Linked DNA regions of Homo sapiens. The protein of the gene in region 6 interacts with the protein of the main gene of each other region in a pairwise test. Each region holds a gene or a part of one and is shown on either strand. Other genes may lie near its edges.

What was found.
Region 1: the proteins of SLC22A2 (region 6) and CLPTM1 interact in a protein complementation assay, tested with the Homo sapiens proteins (one large-scale study listed by BioGRID).
Region 2: the proteins of SLC22A2 (region 6) and FZD5 interact in a protein complementation assay, tested with the Homo sapiens proteins (one large-scale study listed by BioGRID).
Region 3: the proteins of SLC22A2 (region 6) and FAIM2 interact in a protein complementation assay, tested with the Homo sapiens proteins (one large-scale study listed by BioGRID).
Region 4: the proteins of SLC22A2 (region 6) and ETV5 interact in a two-hybrid assay, tested with the Homo sapiens proteins (one large-scale study listed by BioGRID and IntAct).
Region 5: the proteins of SLC22A2 (region 6) and SLC47A2 interact in a protein complementation assay, tested with the Homo sapiens proteins (one large-scale study listed by BioGRID).
Region 7: the proteins of SLC22A2 (region 6) and LAPTM4A interact in a protein complementation assay, tested with the Homo sapiens proteins (one large-scale study listed by BioGRID).

Annotation. Positions count from the first base shown.
Region 1 is NC_000019.10:44,972,380-44,975,879, forward strand, and holds part of CLPTM1 (putative lipid scramblase CLPTM1), read left to right. Parts: intron 1-707; coding exon 708-831; intron 832-2,059; coding exon 2,060-2,218; intron 2,219-3,500. UniProt on the Homo sapiens protein: Involved in GABAergic but not glutamatergic transmission. Binds and traps GABAA receptors in the endoplasmic reticulum (ER).
Region 2 is NC_000002.12:207,762,098-207,764,981, reverse strand, and holds the end of FZD5 (frizzled-5 precursor), read left to right. Parts: 3' UTR 1-2,384; downstream 2,385-2,884. UniProt on the Homo sapiens protein: Receptor for Wnt proteins. Functions in the canonical Wnt/beta-catenin signaling pathway. In vitro activates WNT2, WNT10B, WNT5A, but not WNT2B or WNT4 signaling. In neurons, activation by WNT7A promotes formation of synapses.
Region 3 is NC_000012.12:49,866,396-49,869,648, forward strand, and holds the end of FAIM2 (protein lifeguard 2), read right to left. Parts: 3' UTR 501-3,253; downstream 1-500. UniProt on the Homo sapiens protein: Antiapoptotic protein which protects cells uniquely from Fas-induced apoptosis. Regulates Fas-mediated apoptosis in neurons by interfering with caspase-8 activation.
Region 4 is NC_000003.12:186,067,590-186,071,089, reverse strand, and holds part of ETV5 (ETS translocation variant 5), read left to right. Parts: intron 1-3,500. UniProt on the Homo sapiens protein: Binds to DNA sequences containing the consensus nucleotide core sequence 5'-GGAA.-3'.
Region 5 is NC_000017.11:19,713,785-19,717,984, forward strand, and holds the start of SLC47A2 (multidrug and toxin extrusion protein 2), read right to left. Parts: upstream 2,801-4,200; 5' UTR 2,772-2,800; coding exon 2,649-2,771; intron 1,452-2,648; exon of another isoform or gene 1,434-1,451; coding exon 1,332-1,433; exon of another isoform or gene 1,006-1,331; coding exon 937-1,005; exon of another isoform or gene 562-936; intron 190-561; coding exon 41-189; intron 1-40. UniProt on the Homo sapiens protein: Multidrug efflux pump that functions as a H(+)/organic cation antiporter.
Region 6 is NC_000006.12:160,238,322-160,241,821, reverse strand, and holds part of SLC22A2 (solute carrier family 22 member 2), read left to right. Parts: intron 1-235; coding exon 236-348; intron 349-3,500. UniProt on the Homo sapiens protein: Electrogenic voltage-dependent transporter that mediates the transport of a variety of organic cations such as endogenous bioactive amines, cationic drugs and xenobiotics. Functions as a Na(+)-independent, bidirectional uniporter.
Region 7 is NC_000002.12:20,034,629-20,038,128, reverse strand, and holds part of LAPTM4A (lysosomal-associated transmembrane protein 4A), read left to right. Parts: intron 1-514; coding exon 515-591; intron 592-690; coding exon 691-813; intron 814-3,066; coding exon 3,067-3,162; intron 3,163-3,500. UniProt on the Homo sapiens protein: May function in the transport of nucleosides and/or nucleoside derivatives between the cytosol and the lumen of an intracellular membrane-bound compartment.

The DNA.
Region 1 (3,500 bases), on a different chromosome or scaffold from region 6:
TGGGACTACAGGCGCCCGCCACCATGCCCAGCTAATTTTTTTGTATTTTTTAGTAGAGACAGGGTTTCACCATGTTAGCCAGGATGGTCTCAATCTCCTGACCTCGTGATCCGCCCGCCTTGGCCTCCCAAAGTGCTGGGATTACAGGCATGAGCCGCCGCGCCCGTCCTCGTTCATTCTATTTTTTGTAGCCATTAACCATCCCCGGTTCTGTGCTTTTGAAGCGCTAGGATTCCAGATTCTTTCTTTTAAAAATTTTATGTTTATTATTTTTTCTTTATTTCTTTTTTCTTTTAATTCATCCATCTGCACACTGAAGGGGTTCCAGATTCTTAGTCTCCTCTCGGGGGATCCCAGGGGGCTGGATGGCAGGTTTCCCAGTCTGAGTCAAGAGTCAGCCCCTGCAGCCCTGTGGTCACCAGGAGCTCCTGCAGGATTTAGAGTCAAGGGTCTGCATGCAGACCAGGGCAGTGCCAGCTACCCCCACACACTGGCAAACGGTGGCATCTGGGCTCCCTCCCCAGATGTGGTCTTTAGGGACATCTTATCTCCTTGCCAGCCCTGTGACTACCTTCTCAGGGCCTCCCTGACTTGGTCACTAGCCCCAGGTCAGGCGCCAGCATGTGCTAAGTCAGAAGGAAGTCAGGCGGGTCTATGGCGGAGAGCCAAGGCTTGGGGACTCACCACCTTGCTGCTTCTCTCCTCAGGATCTTCATCATCTGGGCCATCAGCAGTTGGTTCCGCCGAGGGCCGGCCCCTCAGGACCAGGCGGGCCCCGGAGGAGCTCCACGCGTCGCCAGCCGCAACCTGTTCCCCAAAGACACTTTAATGGTAACTGCCGGGTGGTAGGGCAGACTTGGGAGGTGATGGGGTGTGGAGGGGTGGAATGTGGAGGAGTGATGTCAGCAGTCGGGACAGACCAGGTCCTTGCTCACTGGCAGGTCTAGGAAAACAGGTCCAGGGTTGAGGAACTCTGGGCCCATCCCCAACACGTGAGACCTCTGTCACCTGGGTCCATCCCCAGCACATAAAACCTGTGTCACCCAAAAGAAAAAGCAAATTCATTTGGTTAAAATAGGTTAAATCAGGGTCTTTGGATGTTATATTTCAAAAGTATGTTCAGCCTTTCAGGGTTGCAGAGGGAGATGTGCAAGGGAGAGAGTGTGAGAGGTGGGGAGGGCAGGGAGCCAGCAGAGGCTGACAGGAGGTGGGCCCGGAAGGAGAGGAGACCTGCACTTCCACAGTGGGCTTGGGCACAGGCAGGGCAGGGCTTCAGGAGCCTCCAGAGCAAAAGCATTTAGATCTGTCAGTCTAGGCTTTTCTGAGCAAACATGGCCATTGGGGCTTGAGAAAGGAGGAAGTTCTTGTTGGGTCACAGTGGGTTTTTTTTTTTTTTTTTTTTGAGATGGAGTCTCACTCTGTCGCCCAGGCTAGAGTGCAGTGGCATAATCTTAGCTCACTGCAACCTCTGCCTCCCGGGCTCCAGTGATCCTCCTGCCTCAGCCTCACGACTAGCTGGGATTACAGGCATGTGCCACCACGTCCAGCTAATTTTTTGTATTTTTAGTAGAGATGGGGTTTTACCTTTTTGGTACGCTGGTCTCGAACTCCTGACCTCAAGTGGTCTACCCGCCTTGGCCTCCCAACGTGCTGGGATCACAGGCATGAGCCACCGTGCCCGGTGGCTCACAGTGCTTTTGTAGCTCTGGACTGCTTCGTCCATAAGCCTGCAGAGCTCTGACCAGGAAGGCCCAGCAGCCATGAGGGCAGGAGATCATTCAGGGAGCTCCTGCCCCTTCCTACCCCTAAATTCTAATTGGCAGGCTGGCCAGTCTCCAAGTGTTCTTTGTTCGTTGACTTCACAGGCTCAGACCAGGACAAACATGGTGGTATGAGAAAAGAGAAAATATGTCCTCTCTGCTGCTCTTCCTCTCTCCTCTCCCCTGTCCTCCATAATTACTGTTCCCCTGAGTGTGCTGACCGCTGCCATAGCTCTTTAGCCAGCCTGCAGAGGCTCTGAAGAGCAGGCCTGAGCTCTGTTCCCTTCCTGTCCCAACAGAACCTGCATGTGTACATCTCAGAGCACGAGCACTTTACAGACTTCAACGCCACGTCGGCACTCTTCTGGGAACAGCACGATCTTGTGTATGGCGACTGGACTAGCGGCGAGAACTCAGACGGCTGCTACGAGCACTTTGCTGAGCTCGATATCCCACAGGTGGGGGCAGCTCTCGGTTTCTGGCCCCATGGCTGCTTGACTGGCACTGAAGGACCTTTTCCTCCAGTCCGCTCCTTGCTGAGAGCATGTGGAGTTTGGGCTCCAGGCTTGGCCCTTCCCTGGGCTCACATGGTCTGTGACCACAAGCCAGTCCCTGAGATCTCTGGGCTTCACTTTCCCCTACCTGAAAAAGGTAGATAGGGGTGGAATTGGCCTGGGACCCTCCCAGCTACCTCTAAGGTTGTGCAGTCCTCCACTTTAAACTGGTGAAAGATTAGTAATTGTCCTTGGGGATGTTTGCCTATCACCAGTTTATCAGGCAGCCCCGTTTCAAAATAATATTAGTTAATGTTGATTGAGCTAAGTGCAGGGTACTAAGCTAGGCTGACTCATGGAAATTTCCCGGCAACCCTGTGAAGCAGGAACTGTTATTATTCTCATTTAACATGTGAGGAAACTGAGAGAGAAGGAAAGTGATTTACCCAAGGCCACATCGCATGAGAGATTCAGACTCAGGCTCTACGGCTGTGGACTCTCGCAGCCCTAGGCTCAAATCCAACCTCCTCCAGGAAGCCCTCCCTGACTCACAGAGCACTCAGGCTTGGTTAAGCACCCTCTCTGGGTTCTCACACCTGCTGGGCTTCCCCATCCCAGCCCATTCTGGGGCCTCATTGGGACTCCTGTATGGGACTGTGAGCCTTGTGATAATAAGGCTGGGGCTGCCTAGATCACTTCCATGTCCCCAGCACTGCCCAACGTGGGGCTGGGTGCAGAATCAGCAAGTATTGAACAAGTAAAAGGGACATCTCTCTTTGGGGCCTTCTTCGGCTGAGTCCAAGACAGCTGCCCTCATTCCTTTCTCCCCAGCAGGCCTTCTCAGCTTTGGGGTGGAGGGCACATTTCTGTTCTATTTCTGTCTGGGTAGCTAGAAGCAGAATGTGGACACAGTCATTCTGGTTTTTTTTTTTGTTTTTTGTTTTTTTTTGAGACAGCGTCTCGCTCTGTCACCCAGTCTGGAGGGCAGTGGCGCAACCTTGGCTCACTGCAACTTCACCTCCCAGGTTCAAGCGATTCTCATGTGCCAGCCTCCTGAGTAGCTGGGACTAAGGCACACATGATCACACCCAGCTAATTTTTTTATTTTTTAGTAGAGACAAGGTTTCACTATGTTGGCCAGGTTGGCCTTGAACTCCTGACCTCAAGTGATCCACCTACCTTGGTCTCCCAAAGTGCTGGGATTACAGGCGTGAGACACCGCGTCCAGCCATCATTCTTTTCTTTT
Region 2 (2,884 bases), on a different chromosome or scaffold from region 6:
TACAGAACTTTGTGCCTATTTTATTCCTCTATTTATTCTTCTAGGAAGAAGCCTCTTCCTAGAATCTTGAAATAGATCCCTTGACTGAATGCCAATTCCTCTCCTGTTTTTCAAATGAGAGAACCTTTTCTGATCACCTTGACCTTTTCCCTCATTTCATATGTCTTCCCAGAAAGTAGACAGACTGCTCTGCTGCCTTCAGTCATTGTGCCTCATTTGGGTTGTCCCTCCTTCTTTGTGGAGAAATCTGGAAATGATGCACAGTGTATCCAAAAGTTGTGGGATGAAGTGGATGAAAGTGATTTAATTCATTTTTAGAATTTTTTTTTGTTTTGTTTTAGCAACATGCTGAACAACTAATTTACTTTAAAAATAAGCCAGTTAAAACAAAGGACGCTAAGCCCAAGTGGGGGGCAATATTAGTCAGGATCTTTGGGGTCTAATTCCAGACCAACTTTCAGAAGCACTTCTTTGTCTCTGTTCTCACCTCTGCTGTCCCTCTCTTCCCTCATCCCCTAAGAGAGACAAAGATAAAAGCCCACCTGCATCCCTAAGTCTTACTGAGATCAGCCACCCCAGGGGAGAGAAACTGGATCTACTTACAGCCACCCCCTGTTTCCATCCATATAGTTACTTCCCCCAATTTGCATGTGATTATGGAAACAAGTCATGCTCATGAAAGCAACTGTAAAATAAAAGGTTATGGAGTAGTTCAGCAACTTCTTCACAGCCAGCTTTGTGGAGCTGGGGAGGACTTAGGGCCCATTGGAGTCTCTTATGTGTACAGCTTCAGGGCTGTCCCTTTCAGTTTGATTTTAAGCAATGCCTCACTTCATAGCTTAGGGGGTAAGGATTCCATTCAGGTAGGTTGTCTAAAGGAACTAATGGGACCTCTCAGTGAATTAGCTGACCAGATTTTAGGAAATCTTTTTAATTTCTATGATTTTCCTTCTCACATTTTGAAATGGTAAAATTGACTGGAAATAATTTTTCTTGGTGCCTTATTGGTTTTCCTTGCAAACCTTTCTCATATTTTCTCATGACCATTGCCAGTGACCAAGGCCCATGTGTGTGTTGTGTGTAATTGTGGGCATGTACAAGCTTAAATAACGTGCCGACAGCACTGTTTCAAAGTTGGTATTCATTAGGCTGTTGCCTCCTGGGCTGGAGCTGCGCTAATCCTGACACCGGCTGCCAGGAGAAAACCTCATGGATCACACACCAAACCTTAATAACAGCATCCGTGACCTGCACTCTCCAGTACAGAATGGGAACCCCAGAGCTAGGAAATGTAGTTGTATATTTTAATGAACTGCTACCCCAGCCAAAGAAGCTTCTTTCACTTTTGTGCTCTACAGAAAGCCCAAGGGGGGTAGGAGGGACAGAGCTTTGAATAACTGCTTTCTAACACTAAATGTGGCCAACAGGACAGAGCACATCACACGTATAGGCAGGTGTGAGGGACAGTGGCTAAGAATTGCCTGCTCCCTCTGCATGCTCTTTCTTGTTTCCAAAGTCCAATCAAGTGATCCTGGGAAACAAATCTGTCTGGATTGCGGAGGGTGGTTCTGAAAGAACTGCCAAGACGTTAAAGAAGGGTGAAGAGTAGGCAGAATATAAGTAGCTAACCTGAGTCAAGACTCTCAAAAGCTAGCAGCCTGATGACAATAGGATTTATTTCAGCCAGGATAGTGTCTGTCTGTGAGTGCATCATTTTAAGACAGTATGACTTCATGTTGTTACAAACTATGTATAGTATGTATGTTTTGTGGGTTGTATATATACATAATATATATTATATATATATATGAGAGATTTGGTGACTTTTGATACGGGTTTGGTGCAGGTGAATTTATTACTGAGCCAAATGAGGCACATACCGAGTCAGTAGTTGAAGTCCAGGGCATTCGATACTGTTTATGATTTCCATATATGTATAGTGCCTATCCCATGCTGTAGTCACTGTTATGTTAAATCCAGAAGTTACACTAGAGCCAGCGATACTTTATTTGTAGACAATCAATTTGAATCCATATGTTATTACTGGCAGATGATACATGATTACAGTTCTGAATCTGTAACACTTACAAAAGGAAACCCAGAGCAGCTTGATGAGTTTTTGTTTCTGCTTCGTTCCTGGGAGTCAGTAGAAACAGCAGTTGTATGTGGTTATGTTAGTCTCAAGATACTTAATTTGTTGACCTTACTTCAGAAAAATTTTGTATGTATTATATTTGTGGGAAGGTAAAATAATCATTTGAGATTTTTATCAAATATGAAGATTAGTTATTTATGAAAAACAAAGAAATGTCTATTTTTCTTTGTTCCCAATTAATGTAGATAAATTTTAAAATGCATTAAAGTAATGGTAAAGACAATAAAAAGATGCTGTAGAAGTCTTTTTCTCCTCATGTTTTTATAGAGAGACATTGCTTTCTAAGAGTATTCGAGGAGATAATACGGATTCTAACTTCATAATCAGGTTTTTCAGATGTACTTAAAATATAAGCAGCAAAAATTTTATTAGTAAGTAAAATCAAGCAAATTCCAATCACCAGAAACAGAACTAGTTAAGAAACATGTTTTACTTGAATATCTTTCCTAGGTCTCACTCCTGCCGATCCTGTGATTGTCTCATGAGTCACTTGATGAAGGCAGATACGTGGAAGAACAGAGACTTTGCCTGAGATTGCGTTCTATTTTATAAACCCTCCATTTACACTGAACCAATTTGATTAGAGATGATGCTGTTTTGTGCGTCCGGTTGGAGGGCAGGAACTCCCAAAACTTTGTCATCCAGCAGTTGGATCTGCAACTTGGTATTGCGCTCTAAATACAAGTCAGGGAGCCCAGAAGAGACAGTAACACTGACTGAGCTGGCTCT
Region 3 (3,253 bases), on a different chromosome or scaffold from region 6:
TTGGCCAGGCTGGTCTCGAACTCCTGACCTCAGGTGATCTACCCACCTCGGCCTCCTAAAGTGCTGGGATTACAGGCGTGAGCCACTGAGCCCAGCCAAGGTTCTGTGGTTTTAAAGCTGCCGCTCTGGACAATCTGTCCAGATGCAACCCAGGCATTCCTTCCTTCTGTGTACCTTTTAGGAAGCAGATTTTGGCTCAAAATAAGAAAGACCCTTCTACCAGAACGGCCCACAAACGGACAGGCTTCCACAGAAAGGGGTGAGCCCCTGTTCCGGAGGAGACTCTGGGATTGCTTCTAACTCCGGGATCCTGAGAGCCTCCGTAAAGGGTTTATTGAGCAGGAGAACCAATTTAACCCTGTCCACATGAAAATAAACATGGAGATTTACTTCAAACTCAGCAGCTCTGGTGAGAAGGCTCTCACACAGGTCCGGGTTTGACCCACACAGACTCCACGACCATCTGAGGCAACCAGCACACGGCAGACGAGGGAAACAACTCAGGTGTCACAATTGCTTTTATTTTTATCTCCAGTCAGTCACAGACCCCAGGAAGGTGAGGTCAGGGAAGGGAACAGGTGCGGACACTGGGGAACTTGCAGGAGCTAAGGCCAGTGGACAGCAGGAGTGTCGGGGGTGTGGCAGCTGGCCTGGGTCCCTGGAGCTGTGTCTGCCCTCAGGGACTCAGGAGAACGGCTCAGGGAGGGCTTGGGAGGGGGTACACTGTGTCCGAGAGATGCAACCATCGTTCGGCAAAAGAAAACAGCGGTGGCTGATGAGAAGACAGGTCTGGGGAGGTCTGAGGAGAGCTCGGGCCAGATCCTGCCCCCAACCTCCAGCCACATGGGCCCTCGGTGACTCTCCCAAACCAGGCCCTGCGTTTCCTCAAGCAGCCACTGGAGGGCAGCAAAGTGCTTATGCAAAAATCCCACCCCGCCCAGGAGAGCAGCCAGGACACCTGGGACTTGGCTTCAGGTGGGCCAGGGAAGGAGGCAAGGAGCCTTTTGGAAAATGGGTGTCTGTCCCATCCTGACTCCCTCGGAAGGAAGAGTAGGGAATGGAAGAACTAAGATTCCGGGGCTTCCCCAGGTGATACCGAAGGAGCCATAGGTGTGCCCGGGAATGAGTCCCAGACTCGTGTGTGCCTCCCGGGCCCCCATCTGCAGCTTCCAGAAGAGGACTTCAGTGGGAGACCCCTCAACTCACATTCCGGACAGTCAGATTCCTGGCTGCCTCCAGCTTTACAAAATCCAGCCCACCCCTTCCTGGGCCCAGCCCCACCCAGGCCAAAAATGTGAAGGGCCTGCAGACTCCCTTCCTCCTTTACAGCTTGTGACACCTGCTCAGCTGCGGTTTCCTTAATCTTGCATTCCTGTTCCCCTGCCCTTCCTACTTCTGACGCCTCTCCTGGTGTTTCAGGATTCCTCACTGCCTGGATTGGAGATGGAACGCATAGACTTTGGCCCTGACCCTGCTGCCTACACTGTGGTACCTGCCACCCCCCCTCAGGACCCAGAGTAGGAGGCTGCGGCATCTTCTGCCCGGCTTCCCCAGCTCTGCAAAGAAGCCATTTCTCAAATGGCTGTGATGCGTGTGTGACACTGTTTATTGCCGAGGACCTGTCCCTCCTCCCCCAAGCTTTTGGCACTCAGCCCTGAATAAGCTTCTAAATCCCCAGTTTCTGCAGTAACTTATCCCAGGGAGAGGAGAACTTGGACAAGTAGATTCTAGGAAGCATGACCAAGGCTATCTGACAGTGGCAGGAGAGTGGGGTGCTGGGGCTAACCCTCTGGAACTGAGGCCAGAGATGAGGAGAGGAAACTGAGGGGCCCGGAGGAGAGGAGGTGGAGGAGGGTGGGAACCGGGTGAGAAAGTCAGTGGAGAGAAATGTTCTGGTGCCTCTCCCGCCCTATCCTGGCTATGAACTTCCATGTGGCAGATGGAAAAACTGAATTCCAGACAGCAAGAAACCCTCACCTAATAGCAGGAGCCCGCTGGCAGTGAGGCTAGGAACCAGAAACCAGAAATCTTGCCTCCCAGCTCTTGTCTGGAAGATAGAAACCTCAGAGTGCAAAATCTGGCGAGGGGTTTCAGGAAAGACGGGAGGCCGGGTGGCACTGAGGACAAGAAATCCCCAGGACATCAGGGCCTGACCACCCACCTCTCTGCGCTCTCATGTGGTCTCATTCCGGCCCCCACCCAGGCCCAGGGGCAAGCGTGATACCCTGTTTGCTTGAGGCAGCTGTGGGTCTGAACCCCAGGCCCGCCACTCGCTAGCCGTATGACCTGGGACTCATTACCGAGCCTTTCTGAGCACCTCGGCTTTTCCCTCTGCTACGGACATGAGCAGAGCGCTGTCTCTGGAGGATCACTGCGATGGATTAATTTAGACCAGCACACAGTGGGCATCTCACCCGTGCCCCCAATGCCTTTGCTGCACACACACCACCCGCCAGTTCTTGGCTCCTTTTCTCTTCAAATATCCAAGATGGAACAAAACTTCAAATGCTTCTGCAATGTTTCTTGAAAGCTGGGAGTAGGAAGGGTGGGGAGGGATGGGGCTGGGAAGGAACAGCACACCTCGTCTCCCTTCCCAAGGCAGACGGAGCTCCCAGCACAGGGGAGAGAGAAGAGGAGGAGGGCGAAGCCAAGGGAGGGTCCTGCTAGCCACTCAGAGCCTTCCTGTATCCACACAGTAACTTTCCACTGGCCTGGAGTTGGCCACTGCACATGCTGGCTGCACGCTCCCCCAGTGTGGCCTCCTGGTTCCCTCCCCACAGGCGCCCCTCTGGGGGTTGGAGGGCTGACGCACACCCTGCCTGAGATCCCAGCCGCCTGGAAGCTGATAAGGAGCCCTGGCCTCATTACATGGGACCAGCTGGAGGGACTGGCCCTGGCTGTTAGCATCAGCTGGATGGCTTCCAAATTGGAGAGATGCAGAGATAAGTGGGGGAGCACTTAGGGACTCTGGGCTGAGTGAGTGGCCAGTGAAGCTAGAAGAGATGTGGACTGTGCCAACTATGAAGACCTCAGGAGGCCTGGCTGGGGACGAGCCAGCAAACAGCAGCTGACAGGAAGGGTTTAGGAAATAAGAGGTGCAGAAGGGACTCCCACACAGCCTCGGGTTAGGGCTGAGGCAGAGCAGGGACTCCTTCCAGATGGGGCTGGCCTGGCAGCTACAGCGATTGCCTCCTCCCCCAGAACATCCAGCCGGAGGGCCCAATCACACCTCACTCAGCCTTAGGCCTGTGGC
Region 4 (3,500 bases), on a different chromosome or scaffold from region 6:
TGAGCTCGTGGGAGGAAAGGCGCTATATAAATCTGACAAATAAATAAATAACTAGTTCTTTAAATAAACTGGCACCGAAAAAGCCTTAAACTGTGACCTATTGAATTTAGGCTTATTCGGAGTCAGAAGTCCCTTTGCTCACCAAATGTGAGTTCCTTACACGTGCACTCTGTTGGGCTAATGGTGGGAGTGGATGGAAGGGAGGAGGTTAAGGGGAGGAAGAGGAGGTTTGGTAGGAACCAGGCTGTGCCTTCACTGAAAGTGATTGCCTGCCTTGGTAAATTAGAGGCATCTTTGTTGTAGCTGTATTATGTATACAACACATTCTTAGATACTTCAAAAGGACTGGAGAAGGGAGGGTGGTTCAAGTGAAGGTCAGTGAGTAAAGTTCACAGGATGTATTTTGAGGACAAGGACTGAATGACTTCACTAATCTCTGCACATAAAAGACATTATCAGCAGCAAGCTCTGAGAATCTTTCTTCCAAATATGTTGGCTTTGTGACCTACCCCTGAGATCCCCCTTGGCCACTCCTGCTGTCTCAAGACAAACCAGTACGGAACAATCCCAATTATAGAATCTGTTCTGCAGATCACAGGCCTCTAAGCTTTGCGCATCCTTAAAGTTATGCCGCGGGGAGGGGATGAGGTTGCTGGCTAGTGCCCATGTGGAAGTACCTTTTCCTGAGGAGGCCATACCAGGCCAACTCTAGAGTTTCATTCTGGAAGGTGAGAAAAGATGAGCACTAAGCGGAAGTGAGGCCACCAGCCTGCCAGCTGCAGAGGCTCTGGTTACAGAACTGAGCGGCACATGCCATCTCGGAGCTATCAAAGGAACTGATTTCTGGAGGTCACCTTCGAAGGTGCTGGGATGGTGGCAGAGGGGAAAGGGAGAGAAAATGGAAGGCGTTACTACCATTCCTTTCAAGTAGCACAAGATGTGGGCACTTTACAAAAATAAGGCCTTAAGAATATCTTCGGCCGGGCGCCGTGGCTCACACCTGTAATCCTAGCACTTTGGGAGGCCGAGGCGAGCAGATCACTTGAGGTCAGGAGTTCGAAACCAGCCTGGCCAATGTGGTGAAACCCTATCTCTACTAAAAATACAAAAAAAAAATTAGCCAGGCATGATGGCAGGCACCTGTAATCCTAGCTACTTGAGAGGCTGAAACAGGAGAATTGCTTGAACCCAAGAGATGGAGGTTGCAGTGAGCCGAGATTGTGCCACTGCACTCCAATCTGGACAAGAGCGAGACGCCGTCTCAACAAAAAATAAAAAGAATACCTTCATCAGCTGGGTACCGTGGCTTTTGCCTGTAATCCCAGCAAACTTTTGAGAGGCTGAAACAGGCAGATCACTGAGTCCTGGAGTTCAAGACCAGCCTGGCCAACATGGTGAAACCCCGTTTCTACTAAAAATCGCAGCTACTTGGGAGGCTGCGGCAGGAGAACCACTTGATCCCGGGAGGCGGAGGTTGCGGTGAGCTGAGATCGAGTCACTCGAGTCACTGCACTCCAGCCTGGGTGACAGAGCAAGACTTTTTTTTAAGTCTTTTTTTAGACTTTTTTTAAAAAAAAAAAAAAAAAAACAACTTCGTCTCTCTTTTCTGAAAGAATTCCCTTTAGGTTTGCGGCATGCTGCCGGTGCCCATGTTCTAAACGTCAAGTGTAAACCTGAGACGGGAATTTACACTTCTTCAAAGACCATTGAAAGGTTTCTTGAAGAAGTTGTGCCGTAAGGCATTCAGCGCCCCATGAAAGGCTATCAGCCCACTGAACCTTCAGTAGTTGGTAAAACTTGTTTAAGACATTGGCCAGGTGGATTCTGAGGCTTTTGATGTCTGGGATAAAAGGATAAGTACATGTAAATTGCCCAGTAGTTTTCATATTATAAAATGATCTTACCGTGCTGCTTTAGGTAGAGTAGTAAAGGCAGTATATTGTGCTGTGCTATACCCTGATGTAAACAGTGTTCTATCTGTACACAGATCTCTTCAGTTTAAGATTGTAAATCTTGATGTTCTAGAAATCTGCTGACCACCTGTTCCCACACATTGATTCAAATCAAATTCAAACTATTTTATTAAAGCTATTCAAGAATTCTTTGAATTAATAGAATTCAAGCTAAAAGTAGAGAATAAGACCTTAATATTACAGGATTGTATTATTTTTCCTTGAAGCTTGGCTCCTACTTTCTAACTGAGGGTATATATTCACAAATGCTTTTCTTTATACACATAGATTAGTGCTTCCTGTCTGTTTCATGGACTGAGAGTTCACACATCTCCAGCCTTCCACAACCACCTTCCTAAACTCTATAGTCTGTCAATTATGGCTGTGGCAGAAACCATACTTTACAGACATGATTGTATTTCACCATTTCAGGAGCATTTGGAGGATAATACATCCCCATGTCACAGATAAGCAAACAAAGCCAAGAAACTTTGCCTTTGGTCACTTCCCTACTAAGGCACGGCAGGCTTTCCCTTCTACACTGCACACCCAACAGGGAAAGGGCAGCTGGCACACATCTGGATTTATCTGACAGCTGAAGAGTGTTAAGGAAACTCGACTAGTAGCAACAGGTTTTTATTCTATCTTGTTAAAAAACAGTGCATATTTATTATCAAACTATAGATGAGCAAAAAAAGAAAATCACCTAAAATTATAACCACCCCACAGATAGGCAGTGTTAATATCTAAATGTCAGTCTTTCTGTGGTTTTATATGACACCATACTACTACTTTTATTTTTGCTAAGCTTTGATACTCTACGTACTGTTTAGCAACCTTCCTTAATATGTCAAAAATACCTTTCCAAGACCTTATATATTTACATATTATGTAATTTCTAATGGTTGCTTTCAACCAAATGACTGTATCATAATATATATAGCCAGTTTCCTTGTTAGACAGCTGCATTGGTGACCATCTTTGTAGTTATACCTGATCATCTGTGACTGAATTGCTGTTCAGGTACCTGGCACAGAATTAGTAACTGCCTGCTCATCTTCCAAGCTAAAAGGAAAAACACTTCTCTTCTGACTTTGTTACTTTTTTAATTACTAATGAGTTAAACTTTTTGTTTATGACCATTCCTATTCTGTAAGGATATTCCTGTTTATGTCCTTTGCCCATTTTTTTCCTCTTGAGATATTCATCTTTTGTTAATTTCTAAAAGCTCTTTTTGCCAACAGTGAGATTCCTGTATCTGTGGAGATTTTTCCTCAGTTTTACTTTTGGTTTTGTTTCTGGTGTTTTCTGACTACTGCAGATTCTTTCCCCCTGGTTTGATGTGTTTCTTTTGGTTTTGTTTCCGATGTCTTTTTAAGTTATAGAAATTTATACAGTGAGGTATATCCAGGTTTATCTTGATGATTTCTGCTGTTGGTATGATACTTAGGTTTTCCCTCACTCCCAAGTTTTGTAAGTTTTCATATATATTTACTTTCATATGATGGTTTCACTTTTTTTTTTTTTTGAGACAGTCTTGCTCTGTTG
Region 5 (4,200 bases), on a different chromosome or scaffold from region 6:
TCCCAGCAAGCCCCACCTCCCCAGCCGGAGCCCAGCGCACCTGGACACGTCCGGGTCCTGCCGGAAGAGCAGCAGGATGTGCTGGGTGTTGAGGAAGAGCGCCCAGCAAGGGAGGCAGCAGAGGAGCAGGACCAGCGCGCCCCGCTGCAGGATCACGCCCACGTGCTTCTTGTTGGGGCTGCCGAAGCTCTGCAAAACAGCCCGCCCCGCGTCAGCCGTTTCCACTGCCCGGGACATTCCTAAATCCCGCGCGGGGAGCGGGCTGTCAGCGGCGCCAGCGGTGTGTGGCGGACCCGGCGGCCTCTGGTGACCACAGCCTGGCGCCCGCAGCCTGTAATGGCACAGCGGCCTTCCTGAGCCTGGGCCTACCACTGTCTCCACTGTTCTTCCAAAGCTCCAAGGAGGACGAAGGCACATGGGGCTTCATCACATGTCAGCGGCAGGTTAAGTGGAGCCAGGACAAAGCCCAGGTCCACCGTGAAGCTAAAACCCCCAGGGAGAGGTGAGGCCTTGCCGCTTTGTGACCCCATGGCCACCTGGGCAGCCCCTGCTGGACTGCAGGCCCCTGCAAGCAGGGAGGTTCCTTCTGTGTCCCCTTGGCCTTCGACACATGCCTGCATGTAGGCAGCCGAACTTAGGATTGAGGCTGGGGAACCGGTTGTCTTTCTCTACTTGGTGACCTCCTCTGGGGGCAAGAGATCAGAGAACTGTCTCCACCATCTCCACCCCTTTCTCCTGGCCCAGACTCTTTCAAAGGGGAGGGTCTGTTTCCCTGACAGCCTGTGGTCCTTGGAGGTAGGGCAGGGGCAGCTGACCCCAGGGCCCATTGCTCCCAGATCACCTGGCTGCGCCCCTCCCACCTGCCATCTCCATGGCACCTGTGGAATTGGCTCTGCCCTTGCCTGGCTTCCTGCCCAGCTCCAGGAGGCCACCCACCTGAGACATCAAGGTGTCACATGCCGAAGACAAACCAACTCCTACAGAAACTCCGCAGACATTGACAAACTGGCGCCACACACAGGAGGAAACAAGAGCTTGTCAGGTGAGGCCTGAAGAGAGGCCCCTGCATCTGGGCTGAGCCAGGGTCAGGAAATGCTGCCCAGCAGGCAGCGGTGGCAGAGGCTCTGCTCAGCAGCCTCATGTGCTGTGTGCCCCAGGGCCAGACCGCCTCCATCTCCGGCCCTCAGGTTCCACCTGTGAAGGCAGCTGTCCAGCCACGTGGGCTGTGTCTTCCCATCCCTGACCAGCCACCCAAGACGGGCCCACCCGGGAACCCGGTGGAGAAGCCTGGGGAGAGAACGTCCCTGCTCTGGGCCAAGCTGGGTACTCACGGCCACCGCGAGGGTCACCGATGCCAGCTCCACCTTGCCCAGGTGCCCGCAGAACACAGTGCTCACGATGTAGATCATAAAAGTCAGCACCTGGAACAGGAACTGGAGGACAGCGGCCAGGTCAGACTCGGGGCCACAGGTGCCCACACAGCCGAGCCCTGCAAGACAGGCCTCTCCAGCTTTGAGGGCCCCGCACCAGTGCCCCGAGAGGTCACCTACGCCTGGGGAAGCCAGGGCTGGAGGTCGGATGACCTAGCCCAGCTCCCATTCTGCGTTCTGCAGCTGCAGTCACGCCTGGCCTCCACGTCCCTACCCAGAAGGGTCAGTGCCTGGCGCAGCGCAGTGCCTGGCGCCCTGAGCTTGACCCAAGTGTCTGATACTGCTATTGCAGTTCCTATTATAACAATAATTTGGTCAGGCCGCACACCCCCAAAAAAGGAGGGGAATTAAATACACCAAAATCTTAGTAATGGCTATTTCCAAGTACTAGGATTTGAGTTAAATTTCTTTCTTCTTTATATCTTTCATTTTTTTCTAAAAGTTTTACAGGAAGTGCAATTCCATTACTCCTTTTTGGTTTTGTTTTTTTTGTTTTTTTTTTTTTTTTTGAGACGGAGTTTCGCCCTTGTTGCCCAGGCTGGAGTGCAGTGGCGCGATCTCGGCTCACTGCAACCTACCCGTCCCGGGTTCAAGCGATTCTCTGCCTCTCTCTCCCAAGTAGCTGGAATTACAGGCGCCCGCCACCATGCCTGGTTAATTTTTGTATTTTTAGTAGAGTCGGGGGGTTCTCCATGTTGGCCGGGCTGGTCTCCAACTCCTGACCTCAGGTGATCCTCCCTGCTCGGCCTCCCAAAGTGCTGAGATAACAGGCGTGAGGCAGCACGCCCAGCCTATTCCTCTTCATGATCAGAAAAAATAAATGTATTTAAAACAATTTCCCCTTTGGAAATGAAATGGGTAGCCGGCCCCTTCTTCCCCCTGCGAAGGTGCTGCAGGCTTCATGCATCTCTGGGTCCCATTTGTCCTGGAGCCATCTTCCAACTCAGGCTTTTGTGGGTTTCCAGCTGAGGCACACCCACCCCTTCTGTGTGGGGGCTGCCTGCTGCTGAGCAAAGTCAGGCCCCACTGCCACTGGGGATTGTCCAGAGACAGCTTTCAGGAGCCATCCTGCTGTCCCCAGACTCTGGACCTGGCAGTCAACATGGGCAGTTTCTGGGGAAAATGTGAGCACATTTCTGGATCCTGCCTGCAAGGCAGACACCCTCAGCCTCTCAGCTTCCTCCACTCCCTACCTGCCCCCCAGCTCCTCCTCCTTACCAGGGGTCCAGAAAGGGCAAAGAGAGTCCACATCTCAGTCCCAAAGCCTCTGGGAACCAGCCTGCTGAGGGCAGGGCAGCAGCCCCCATGGTCCAGGGCCACTGTGTCCTGGAGGCTGTCCATTCCTGGCCGGGGCACTGGCTACCCTGCACGCCTGAGCGCCTGCACGGCCAGCTTTGTCCAGCGAGCCACCCCCTGCCTGGGCAGCCCGTGTCGGTACAGCCTGGCTGATGAGTAAGGGGCAGGAGGAGGGGCTACCATGGCAACTTGTGGGATGAGCCCTGCCTCCTAGGGCACTGAGTCCCTGCTGCCAAGCCTACTGCCTCAGCCACTAGGGAGGACAGGTTCCTGGGAGTCACCCAGACCGCTGCCTGTTGTGTCTGGTCTCCCAGAGGGATTGGCAGTAAGGCCTCAGCAGGAGAAGGTCCAGGGCTGCCTGCAGTGGCTGTGGGAGGTGTGCTGAGGCCAGGACAGGGCAGCCTGGCTGGGGCAGCTGAGCCACTGGGCGTCCTGTACCCGGGCGTGATGGTGCCCACAGTGACTCCCGTTTTTCAGAAGAATTGGTGGCCTGCCCGAAGTCACAGAGCAGGTGGTGGCAGAGCCTGAACAGCCCTCAGCCCTGCTTTTCCCTGGGAGGGGTGGCTTCCCAAGAGACAGGGGCCTGGCAAACCCCATGGCAGTGCGGTCCCTAGCCTTTCATGCTGGAGGGGCCTGGGCCTGGGCCTGGGGATAGGGATGGGAGCTAGGACACCTCGGCGGAGTCCCAAGCCCCCCACTGCCCGTCACCCCTTTCAGCAGCATATCTGAGAGCCAGGGGTGGCAGTGCTTGGGAAAGCAGCTCACTATGCACGCCAGTCACTGTGCCCAGCAAGGCTGTGACTCGACGTCCCACAGGGTCCTCTGTCACCTTCCCAAATTGCCCTCTCTGCTTTTCCTTGCAGGGATGGCCTGTGACTCCCCCCTCAACCTGCCTCAAGACCAGCAGGGCAGTGGGAACCAAGAGAGGCATCTAAGGATTGCACCGGTCACCTAGCCCAGTCCTGGATCAAGCTTTTGGGTGTGGTTCAGCCCAGGAGAAGGAGGAGTGAGCGAGGGGGGCAGGAAGACAGCAGGCAGGCTGGCCAGTGGCTGTGGGAGGGCTGAAGACATCCCAAAGGCCCCACTTGGTTCCCATGTCCACCCCTGCAGCGGAGGAGTGGCCGGCAGGATTCCGAGATGCAGCCCCCAGAGCCGCGAGGAGGAAGGAGCAGACCCTGAAGGAGAGGAGGCAGGACAAATACAAAAAAAAAAAAAGGGTTTGCTACACCCATGGGCGGCCCCAAACACAGGCACAGCCCCACCCCAGTCAACACGCAGCCTTCTTTTTTGACACAGAATTCTGAAACGCTCCACTGGATCCTCCCAGGATCACCTGGGAGGTCACATTCCTGCCCTTGTTCTGATGGTTCTTATCACAGCACTCTCCAACCTGTGCACCAAATAGTACCTTTACCACCTGCCTAGAGGAAAGAAGACATTTTATCACCATCGTGATTGTGATGATGACACCAAA
Region 6 (3,500 bases):
TTTTGGTGTTTTTTTTTTATTTCAATAGGTTTCTGGGAAACAGGTGGTATATGGTTGTATGAATAAGTTCTTCAGTGGTGATTTCTGAGATTTTGGTGCACCCGTCACCTGAGCAGTGTACACTATAGCTCTTGAACATTTTAATTATTTGAGGAAGTGTTTATTCAGGGGTGGATGGGAGATAACTACTGCACTGTGATAAGTTAACAAGTTAAATCAGTTTCCTGCATTCTAGGAATCTTGGCGTCCACATCTGTTCCTCAATGTGTGACATTGGTGGCATCATCACGCCATTCCTGGTCTACCGGCTCACTAACATCTGGCTTGAGCTCCCGCTGATGGTTTTCGGTAAGAAATCTTCACAGATGTCTTTAAGTGAAAACTTATTTTTCTAGAGACCTTCACTTCTCTTCTACTTCATTCAAAACAGGTGTCATGCCTATTAGTAACTACTAATTACTACTCATAGTAGTAATGATGTGTCTGTGGCTTGCGTTCTTCCTGGATGTGCCTAGTAATTAGTAATATTATTAGTATTAGTAATACTAATCAATAATACTAGTTCAGTATTCATAATATTATCATCACTACTAATACTCAAGTATGGGACTCCTGCCATAGAGGCAGAATGTTGAAGAGAAGAATGAGAAGGAAGAAAGTTTCCCAGCAGCAGGCCCCTAACTCTCTCTCTGCTGATTTCCACCCTTCCTGAGGTCTCTGTCAAAGAGTTAACTCCTCCATGCCCAGAGGTGGTAAAACACAAGCCCTTTTACTTCTTACTTCAAAGAAGGGGGTTAAAATTTTGCAAAAGGCAATTTCAAAACCCAGAGGAAATAAAGACCCACATTAAGAAAATGCATCAGCATAATGGAGCACCTGTGTTGATGCACCTGGAGCAATTAGATTTCAGGAGCGTCACATAGCACTTCCCTTCTGCTACTGCCAGCAGGAACACACCAGCACTGAGCCTTCTCTGGTTAACTGGAACACCTCAATGCACCCATTTCAGGCTCCTTTGACACCCATTCTGAGCTGCTTTTAATTGAATATGTGATGCTTTTTCCCATGGGCATATAGCACTCAATTTAGGGGAAGAGAAGAAGAAGAGATTTCACTCTCAGATGTACATGAGGGTGTAAAGGGAAAGGAAATTTAAAAATCTCAGGACCCCCAGAATCCTTATGCAAAAGGGAAGACTAAGCCTGGAGGTTGAGTCATGCAACACCCTCTTCCAGATGAATAGCTGTTACAAGCATTATACATCATGCCTCAGTTATCTACAAAGGACCACCCCTGCAGGTCATTCATAAGTAAATTCTTTGCTGGCCTCCTGTAGACAAGAATTTTAGGTCTACAATCTAAGCTTAGCTTCTAAAACTAAAGTCTGCTGATTCCACACTGATAATGTTGATTGCAAGCTTATTTCCCAATGTACAGAATAAAGACAAGATCAGTCATTCCTCCACCTACTCAGAGAGGCCTGCATAATTGATTCTTTTCTTTACTCCCATTTTCTCTTTAAACATTCACCTTATCATATGTAAAATGTAAATTTAACTGGGCACTAGTTAAAGTCTCACAAGGATGGAAACATTCCTCTACGGCCTACCTGCCCCTCTCCCTACCTGCCTCCCTACTTTAAGGAAATGTATAAATACCAACCTCCTGAAAGCCTCTTTGTAAAAACAGCCACAGATGTGTCTGTGGCTCATTGCTTTTCAGGGACATGCCCTAAAGCTGACTTAATAAACCTCGACTGACTGGGACATTTTCCTCAGTCACTCATTTCCGTTATCAGGGGAAGCTCCCACCACTTCACTCCTAAGGCTGCCCAATGCCCCACACAGCTACCCTGCTCATTCCTTTTCTTCCCCTTCTTCTCACGGAATTTGTGAGGGGGAAAATTTTCCACCACTCTAGATCTGCCAGCAAAAGTTCCAAACCACTGATGGAACTTACCTGCAAAACAGATGCAATGAATTCCTCCATGATCCAGTTTAATAGCAATAAGATGGCCAAAGTTGACAGAGCACAAGCTCTTTATCCTGAGATAACTTGGCCACAGAGTAGCTGGTGCTACTCCTGAGACATATGTGACCCCTATTTCTTTCTCCCCCAACACTGGCTAAGGAAACTGTCCTCAGAACCCTCTTTTCATCATGAGGAGGTACCCATCAAACCCTCTGTCCTCCTTCCTGCCATGGAGGAAGTTAGAGACCACTCAATCTTGGCCACTCCCTTAGGTGGACAGTGGGTGACTAATGGGTCAGCAGGACATTTCTGGATAGCAGATGGTTACTTCGTTACTGGAAAGAGGTCCTGACCCAGACCCCAAGAGGGGGTTCTTGGATCTTGCACAAGAAAGAATTCGAGGTCAATCCATAGAGTAAAAGGAAAGCAAGTTTATTAAGAAAGTAAAGGAATAAAGAATGGCTACTCCATAGGCAGAACAGCAGCATGGGCTGCTCAGTTGAGTAACCTATAGTTACTTCTGGATTATATGCTAAACAAGGAGTGGATTATTCGTGAGTTTTCCAGGAAAGGGATGGGCAGTTCCTGGAACTGAGGGTTCCTCCCCTTTTCAGACTATATAGGGTGACTTCCGGACATCACCATGGCATCTGGCATCTGTAAACTGTCATGGTGCTGGTGGGAGTGTCTTTTAACATGCTAATGCATTATAATTAGTGTATAATGAGTAGTGAGGATGACCAGAGGTCACTTCCATCGCCATCTTGGTTTTGGTGGGTTTGGGCCAGCTTCTTTACCACTTCCTGTTTTATCACCAAGGTCTTTGTGACCCTGTGTCTTTTGCTGACCTCCTATCATCCTGTGACTAAGAATGCCTAACCTCCTGGGAATGCAGCCCAGTAGGTCTCAGCCCCATTTTACCCAGCCCCTGTCCAAGACAGAGTCACTCTGGTTCAAACAACTTTGACAACTTCATGTTTCTCTAAGTACTATTTAACAAATAGTACTTTATTGACCCTTGTTCCTGCCTGACACCTTCCTGCAGGAAAGATAAAGGATTATAACTACATTTCAATATTTAAAGTAAACTCAAAGACAATTCTAATTTTATTCTTGAAAGTAATTTCATATTCTTCCCTCACTAACCTTTAGTATGAGTGGCTAGTGGAAAGAAAACCTAATAGTTTTTCATTTTAACTTCTTTCTCTTTCTTTTCCACACAATAATGGTGTGCTAATTGTGGTCTTGAAATAGCCATAAAACGATAATCAAAGAAGACTGAAAGTCAACACACTGGAAAATCCTGGCTGAAAGAGCACTGGAAAAATCAACAAGGATTATTCTGGTTAACTAGGCCTGTCTTTGCAAATATAAAATGCCAAACGAATGGTAATTTTATTAATCAGTTGTATTCATCATGATTCACTCACTTCAGAGATTCAGATGCCAGCTGAATGTGTTTCTTGTTTGCATTACTTACAATACAATAACCAAGTGAATCTTGGGAGGCTTGGAGACATTTTGAGAGG
Region 7 (3,500 bases), on a different chromosome or scaffold from region 6:
ATGTATGTAGCATTCTGAGTTTAATACACTTGTCTTTTAAGCAATTGCCAGCCATTCCTTCCAGCTAAACCCTACTCATAAGACCCATCTTGTGTCATTTCTTCATATTTTTTCCTGATGCTTCAGGCAAAGCAAATTGTTTCTGCCTCTGTTGTAGCACTTGACACATTGGATTATAATGATCTGTTTGCACATCTTCAGATTCCTGGGCTCATAAGGGCACAGGGACCTGTTTCTCTAGCAGAGAATGTGGTTCATGTGCCATCCTACACCCATGTCAGTGAGTCGTTGGAGCGATTTAACAAATAAGTGCTTTGTGTGAATGTCTCAAGGTTCCTTACTTCATGCTGAGACTTTGATTTTTTTTTTTTTTTTTTACCCTCTTGGCCTTAGATCTTTTTATAGCCAATTTTGAAAATATTTAAATTTAATATTTTAAAGCTAGCTTTAAGTGAAGTTTTGTTCTTTTTGTTGTGTAAGTAGCTTAATTAGATTTTTGTTTTTGTTTTCTTAGATAATGCCTGTGTTCTTTTTGCCGTCTCTGTTCTTATGTTTATAATCAGTTCAATGCTGGTTTATGGAGCAATTTCTGTAAGTATACTGTATTTTCATCTTTTAGAGTTTGACCTTAGGGGAGCTTAGTAATTTCCTATATGTGATACAATGTTATGGTTGTTATTTTTTCTCCAGTATCAAGTGGGTTGGCTGATTCCATTCTTCTGTTACCGACTTTTTGACTTCGTCCTCAGTTGCCTGGTTGCTATTAGTTCTCTCACCTATTTGCCAAGAATCAAAGAATATCTGGATCAACTAGTAAGTGTGTATGCTCATTAAACTTATTTTTTTTTCATTTTGAGTAAAATGTTTACATTTAAATTCTGAATCAGCCTTAGGTATTATTTTTAACTACTCCGCTTGCTTTTGAAAGTGTCTTAAAATAATTATTTCTGCTCTCTTAGCTACTGTGACAAAACTGGCAAGATGAAAGTAGAGTAATTTCTTACCATCCATTTGGATAATGCAGTATTAAGAGTTCCTAGAAATGGATATTATGGAACTAGTAGTTCAGCTTTTGTTTTTGAGCATCCAAAGGTACAGTAATTTGACTGTGTATGGCACTCTTTAAGTGACTAGCTTATTGTCTTTACAGACATCTGTAGCAAGTATTCCAGTGCCTACTATGTTTTTAGCCCTTTGCTAGGCACTGTTGGTGAATGGTGTGGATATAAAGATAACTGCGAATATTACAGTTTAGCGAGCAAACTGTAATATTTGGGGAGTCAAGATACATGAAGATGTTACCTGTGATAACAAGCGGGAGCTGTCACAGCAGCAGCAAATAAGGAACTTCGATTAATGTCATATGGAGGGGGGCAGGGAAAACTCTGGGCTGGGTGGCCAAGGAGGGCGTCGTGGAGGTGGTCAGAAGGAGATATGGGATCTAGGTAGATGAAAATTGGCAGGAGTATCCTCAGTTCATTTCCAAAGTGCTGTCTTTCAGAACTTTTCTTCCCACTACCAGATTTCCTGCCTAGCCCATTTTCCACACCACCAAATTCATCATTCATTTATTCAGAAAACATTCGCTGGTTGCTCTTATGTGCAAGGCACTCTGCTAGGTCATAGAGATGCATCAGTGGAGCTTACTTCCTGGTGAAGGAATCAGGAAGTTGACAGTTAACTGATACACCATTGTAGGTTACTGTGGGAGTGGATATCACATGGGTACTAAACCTGGGCTGGGAAGTGAGATTTGAATTGTACTCAGGAGTTTGAACAGGAATTAAGATAGAGAAAGTATAGAAGACAATGTTCCAGATAAAAGAGAGACCTTGAGGCAAGAAGCAGCATAGTGAGGGCACTAGAAGCTGGCCATGGTGGCTGGCACACAGAGGGAGGGTGGGGAAGCCTGGAGAAAGGTGGCCAGGGGCAGGGCTGTTGGCCTGGTCAGCCACGGTCAGCGGCTTCTGTGTGGCTCTCTGCTCATGTCATCTCCGGGGGAGAAATTTCAAGTGGTGCCTCCCTGCCTTCTGAGTAAAACCCTTAGCATAGCATTCCCTCATGAGCTCCACCTTCTGTGTTTTTCTTTTTGTTTATAGATGAAGATCAAAAAAACAGCTTTTTTCCCAAGGAGACAACCTGGCTGGGGTTTGGGGAGTAGTGTGTTCTTAAAATTTTTTTTTTCTATTTTTTTCAGTCCTTTGGGATTTCTGTTTATGTTGCTTTTTAAATGAAAATGTAATTAGGCCTTCTTGTTGACATTTCCATTAAAAACAAGCATAACTTAAAAAAATTAAATCAGCTTTATAGAAAAGAAGATAAAAATTTATTATTCCTTTTAGAGACCCTGGTGTTTTCTCTCCTCTGTTTTGTTCACTTAGTGCCTCAGACTGGAAGGTATTTCCTCTGTTGGTTAGTTTTTAAATCTGAAATTCTTCTTTTATAACACCTTTCTCCCTGAACTTAGCTCATTGCCTTGTACACAGTCAGGGCTGATTAAGTATTTAAATGAATATAGCTGATGCTTTTCAGTAGAACAGAGTATGTCTGCAGTAAAACTTATGTCTTGCCTGACATTGTAACCAGTGGGTGTATTTTTGCCCCTGTCTGATGAGAGTTGAGACAAACGATTGACATTTAGAAAAATAATTTTCCCCTTGTAGCATTAAAATGGCCCAGTTTATCTGTAGAACTTACACAGAACTGAGCATCTCCTGAGTTAATGATGCAAGTGACACAGGGACTGATCTCCAGTGCCATATAGGCGATAGTGTTTTTCCAAAGGCCAGAAAGATGGAAAATAGTGAAAAGTAAAGAGAAAACGAGCTAAATTTAGACTTTTTGGAGCATTGTGGGTTATCAAATGTACTCTAAGTGATTGTTAGCATGCATTAATGGTGATAAGGCTTAAAATTTAAAAGCACTTTGAATTAAATTCTGCTTATACATTTTTATTAAATATCACTTTTGACTTTGGTGCCTTTGTATTCTTCAGATGCTCTTCAGGTTATCAGCAAGTGCTAGTGCGATGGCTGACTTGTAAATGTGTGTGTGTTTCTTTAATAGCCTGATTTTCCCTACAAAGATGACCTCCTGGCCTTGGACTCCAGCTGCCTCCTGTTCATTGTTCTTGTGTTCTTTGCCTTATTCATCATTTTTAAGGTACGTTGCTGACTAAATCTTTAGGGGTGACTGAGATTGACACTGTGAATCTAAACCTTTTTGCTGCCTTTCACCTTACAAGTCACAGGAGATTGAGGATTTGTGGGGACAGTGTTTATTCTGGCACATGAGCAGAGATAGCTTCTAGGGAATGGTTTCTGTTGTGTTTCCAAGGAATGGTTGTAACTGTCAGGATCCTTCTCTGAGTGAAAGGACCTACTTTTTATGTTTTTGAAAAGGGGTTCATGATTTGTATTGAAAATCTGTTAAAATTCCCAAGGTTCACAAACCCAGAATTTCTTCTGCAGCACAGTGGGTTGACCTGAATTGAAGCTCCA